Linked DNA regions of Homo sapiens: region 2 is linked to region 1. The links come from fine-mapping of genetic effects on gene expression. Tissue or cell type: transverse colon. Region 1 holds a variant in brackets; the other region holds the start of a gene. All regions are shown on one strand. Distances are between the middles of the regions.

Region 1 (2,767 bases):
GCCGCCCCGTCTGGGAGGTGAGGAGCGCCTCCGCACGGCCGCCCCGTCTGGGAGGTGAGGAGCGCCTCTGCCTGGCTGCCCATCATCTGGGAGGTGAGGAGCGCCTCTGCCCAGCCGCCCCATCTGGGAAGTGAGCACCTCTGCCCGGCCGCCCCATCTAGGAAGTGAGGAGCGCCTCTGCCCGGCCGCCCATCGTCTGGGATGTGAGGAGCACCTCTGCCCGGCCACCCTTCGTCTGGGAGGTAAGGAGCGCCTCTGCCCGGCCGCCCCATCTAGGAAGCGAGCGCCTCTGTCCGGCCGCCCTGTCTGAGAGGTGAGGAGCGTCTCTGCCCAGCCACCCTGTCTGGGAGGTGAGGAGTGCCTCTGCCCGGCCGCCCGTCGTCTGGGAAGTGAGGAGCGCCTCTGCCCAGCCGTCCTGTCTGGGATGTGAGGAGCGCCTCCGCCCGGCCGCCCCGTCTGGGAGGTGAGGGGCGCCTCTTCCCGGCCGCCCCGTCAGGGAGGTGGGAAGCGCCTCTGCCCTGCCGCCCTGTCTGGGAGGTGAAGAGCGCCTCTGCCCGGCCGCCCCGTCTGGGAGGTGAGGAGCGCCTCTGCCCGGCTGCCCCGTCTGGGAGGTGAGGAGCGCCTCTGCACGGCTGCCCCGTCTGAGAGGTGAGGAGAGCCTCTGCCTGGCCGCCCACTGTCTGGGATGTGAGGAGCTCCTCTGCCCGGCCACCCCGTCTGGGAAGTGAGGAGCACCTCTGCCCGGCCGCCCCGTCTGGGAGGTGTACCCAACAGCTCCGAAGAGACAGCGACCGTCGAGAACAGGCCATGATGACGATGGCGGTTTTGTTGAAAAGAAAAGGGGGAAATGTGGGGAAAAGAAAGAGAGATCAGATTGTTACTGTGTCTGTCTAGAAAGAAGTAGACATAGGAGACTCCATTTTGTTCTGGACTAAGAAAAATTCTTCTGCCTTGGGATGCTGTTAATCTATAACCTTACCCCCAACCCCGTGCTCTCTGAAACATGTGCTGTGTCAACTCAGGGTTAAATGGATTAAGGGCAGTGCAAGATGTGCTTTGTTAAACAGATGCTTAAAGGCTGCATGCTCATTAAGAGTCATCACCACTCCCTAATCTCAAGTACCCAGGGACACAAACACTGCGGAAGGCCACAGGGACCTCTGTCTAGGAAAACCAGAGACCTTTGTTCACGTGTTTATCTGCTGACCATCTCTCCACTATTATCCTATGACACTGCCACATACCCCCTCCAAGAAACACCCAAGAATGATCAATAAATACTAAAAAAAAAAAAAAAAAAAAAA[C/AAC]TAGAGAAGCAAGAGCAAACACATTCAAAAGCTAGCAGAAGGCAAGAAATAACTAAGATCAGAGCAGAACTGAAGGAAATAGAGACGCAAAAAACCCTTCAAAAAAATCAATGAATCCAGGAGCTGGTTTTTTGAAAAGATCAACAAAACTGATAGACCGCTAGCAAGACTAATAAAGAAGAAAAGAGAGAAGAATCAAATAGGTGCAATAAAAAATGATAAAGGGGATATCACCACTGCTCCCACAGAAATACAAACTACCATCAGAGAATACTATAAACACCTCTATGCAAATAAACTAGAAAATCTAGAAGAAATGGATAAATTCCTCGACACATACACTCTCCCAAGACTAAACCAGGAAGAAGTTGAATCTCTGAATAGACCAATAACAGGATCTGAAATTGAGGCAATAATTAATAGCTTACCAACCAAAAAAAGTCCAGACCAGATGGATTCACAGCCGAATTCTACCAGAGGCACAAGGAGGAGCTGGTACCATTCCTTCTGAAACTATTCCAATAAATAGAAAAAGAGGGAATCCTCCCTAACACATTTTATGAGGCCAGCATCATCCTGATACCAAAGCCGGGCAGAGACATAACAAAAAAAGAGAATTTTAGACCAATATCCTTGATGAACATTGATGCAAAAATCCTCAATAAAATACTGGCAAACCGAATCCAGCAACACATCAAAAAGCTTATCCACCATGATCAAGTGGGCTTCATCCCTGGGATGCAAGGCTGGTTCAACATAAGAAAATCAATAAACGTAATCCAGCATATAAACAGAACCAAAGACAAAAACCACATGATTATCTCAATAGATGCAGAAAAGGCCTTTGACAAAATTCAACAACCCTTCATGCTAAAAACTCTCAATAAATTAGGTATTGATGGGACGTATTTCAAAATAATAAGAGCTATCTATGACAAACCCACAGCCAATATCATACTGAATGGACAAAAACTGGAAGCATTCCCTTTGAAAACTGGCACAAGACAGGGATGCCCTCTCTCACCACTCCTATTCAACATAGTGTTGGAAGTTCTGGCCAGGGCAATCAGGCAGGAGAAGGGAATAAAGGGCATTCAACTAGGAAAAGAGGAAGTCAAATTGTCCCAATTTGCAGATGACATGATTGTACACATAGAAAACCCCATCGTCTCAGCCCAAAATCTCCTTAAGCTGATAAGCAACTTCAGCAAAGTCTCAGGATACAAAATCAATGTACAAAAATCACAAGCATTCTTATACACCAATAACAGACAAACAGAGAGCCAAATCATGAGTGAACTCCCATTCACAACTGCTTCAAAGAGAATAAAATACCTAGGAATCCAATTTACAAGGGATGTGAAGGACCTCTTCAAGGAGAACTACAAACCACTGCTCAATGAAATAAAAGAGGATACAAACAAATGGAAGAACATTCAATGCTCATGGGTAGGAAGACTCAA
Region 2 (2,633 bases), 68 kb after region 1:
GTATAACAGGTAGCCTCCGAACAGGCAACATTTCCATGAAACTAAATTGCCTCTCAGTAATCAGTACTAACTAACTCAGCGCTCGTGTCTTTCAAGACCTTACCCTTTCATCTTTTTTAATCCCATAACAACCGGCAACTCTTCACATGCTGCGACTTCCACCCAGCATCATCACTTCTGGAGCCAGTAAGCTCGCGCTTCCTGGGCGGTCGGGGCGAGTTGTCAACGCTGGGAGGGCAGAGCCATGCAATCCCACCCGTGCAGTTCGTCTCAACTCCCCCGAACACAAGTCTGGCGGCACGGAGCTGCCTACTTGGGCGCGACTCCGGGCGCCTGCCCGGAATTTCCCACCAGGTTTCACCGAAACCTCCCGAGGGTGACCTCTACGCCTCAGCACGGTGCCTCGCGCGTAGTTTCCTAAGACTGGGACACGAAACCACCCCAGGTCCACAGCCCTGCCGCGCGGCGTCCGGTGTTGTGAGCTGCTTCCGACTTGTTCGGGAACTCTCTCTTCATCCTCTTCGCGACCGCGGCCCTCCGCTCCCGGCCGCGCCCGCCCGCCGCCAGGTAACCCGCTGGACTCGGGCTCCCTGCCCCGGGCGCGCGGGACCGCGCAGTTAATGTGTAACGCGCCCGTGCCCGGGGGAGGAGCCGCCGCCCGACGCCCACCAGCAGCCCAGGGGGCGGCCGGCTGACCCGGGTCGCCAAAGTCCCCCCCACACGCCGCCCCCAAGGGCCCGGAGCCCAAGTGCCCAGGCGGAGAGCGAGCTCACCGGGCCTGGGCATCCCCCCGAACCCCCGCGTGCCGCGCCCTGCACGGCGCCAGCACCTGCACCTGCCGCGGCCGCCCCTCCTGGCCGACTCGCCAGAGGCGGGCGCGCGGGCGCCGAGGGGGGCGGTGCTCTACGCTCCGGGCCTCTCCCTCCCGCGGCCGCACTCACCTGAAGAACCCACCGCGGCCGCTGCCGGCGCTCAGGGGCGCTCACAGAGCCGCAGAGAGCGCGTCCCGAAGCAGCGAGAAACGGAGGAGGACGGCGAGCCCTTTCCGCTACACTCCACGGCGGCGGGCTCACTACGCCGGCAGCCGCCGAGGGAACGCGGGACTGCGCCTGCGCCGGAAGCGGGGCCGGGGGCCGGGAGCCGGGAGCGGCCGGTCCTCACGGAGGGAGGGCGGGGTAGGGGGGTGTGGCCGGCAGGGGCGGGGCGAGCCCGGCATGGGGCCTGGGGGCGGACGCGCTTCCGCGCCCCCTGGCGCCAGGCGGGGCTCGTCGCAGGTGTCACGGCCCTGGCCCGAGGTTCCTCCGCGGGCGGTTTCCCTGGGAACCAGCGCGAGCCGGAGCTGCGCTCTGTTTCGTCGGGCCCGCGCTCTGTTTCGTCGGGCCCGCGCTCTGTTTCGCCGGGCCCGAGAGGCGGCCTCAGGTTAACTTCAAGCATGTTGGGCTCTCCAGGAGGGAGAAGAGGCACCTTTGCCGTGGGTTGAGGACTCCTAGAACCAACCTGAGACTCCGCGGCCATATACACCTTACGACGTGTGTGTGTGTGGCGGGAGATGGGAGGGGAGGAATCCTGTAGAACCCAGATCCCATCATTCCAGCAACTGCCAGAGCGTTCGAGAATGTCATGTCTGTACCTGTCTTCTCTCATCTTTTGTGCCAACTGTTTTATCAAACTTCTACCCCACTTTAGGTCTTCCAGGTAGGAAAAATACAGAAAGAGCCAAGATCCCAAAAATCAAAAAAAAATAATAATAATAGAGGTAGTCATAGTATGTGTCTCTATGTTTAGCAAAAGAGAAACGTGCATTTGTGTGATACACTTATTGAATAGGACCATCATTCTGGGTATTAATCTCATCTATTAGAGGCAGTAAAGAAAAGTAGACTATATGTATGGTTGTTGGAGTCAGAATTACTGGGCTTGAGCCTGCCACCTGCTAGCTGAGTGACCTTAGGCAAATGAATCTCTCTAGCCCCAATTTTCTCATCAGTGAATGAGTATACAGAACCTGCCTCACTGAGTCATTAAGAGTTTAAATGGCTTAATTCATGTAAACACTTTGCGTACTTCATGACACAGAGTGCCTAATAAATATTAGCTATTGTTATTATACCATTATAACTATTATCATGCATCTGTAATCCAGAAACCTAGAAAGCCAGTGTTTCTTATTTTATACCCCATCGCCAATATATCACCAAGTCTTATTCATCCTAATTTCTAAATAATTCTTAAATCTATCTTATCTGATATTCATTGCCACTAGAAATGACCTTTCTCATTAATGGATTCCTATTCTCCCTTACACCTCATAGCTGGTCATTTATTCATCAGACATTTTATTGCACTCCATCTGTGTGCCTCCTGTTAGACATAGGGACAGAGAAACCATTACAAAGTCCCCACCATCCACGGACTCAAACATATATAGGGAGACAAGTATGTCAATAGTAGCTACGTGAAATGAATAAATTAAATATACAGCAAACCACTTAGGCTCCCCAGTCTTGCCGTACTCACATACAACCCTGTATTTCCATATGCTGTTTATTTTTATGTCTTGATCTCCTACCTTTTCCTTGCCTTGCTAATTATTTGTTATTCATTATTTAGCCTAGACATCAATTCCACTGTGA

What was found. PIP is the estimated chance that this variant, and not a neighbour inherited with it, causes the effect.
Region 2: RAB3IP starts here. The variant in region 1 is fine-mapped to the expression of RAB3IP in transverse colon (CEDAR, PIP 0.95). The same link has a PIP of 0.9 or more in monocytes.

The regions. Positions count from the first base shown.
Region 1 is chr12:69,805,108-69,807,874 of GRCh38, reverse strand. The region is part of intron 8 of RAB3IP (RAB3A interacting protein); the gene reads right to left. Among named protein-coding and RNA genes, the nearest start is that of MYRFL, 19 kb to the left of the region's middle. The variant C/AAC (reference allele first, on the strand shown) is at 1,305.
Region 2 is chr12:69,737,340-69,739,972 of GRCh38, reverse strand. RAB3IP (RAB3A interacting protein) reads right to left here and starts at 1,113. Exons shown (of 11, transcript NM_022456.5): 1 at 942-1,113. It overlaps LOC101928002 (a long non-coding RNA gene), which reads left to right and starts at 1,423. Exons shown (of 4, transcript NR_110072.2): 1 at 1,423-1,695. RefSeq lists a silencer at 536-1,365.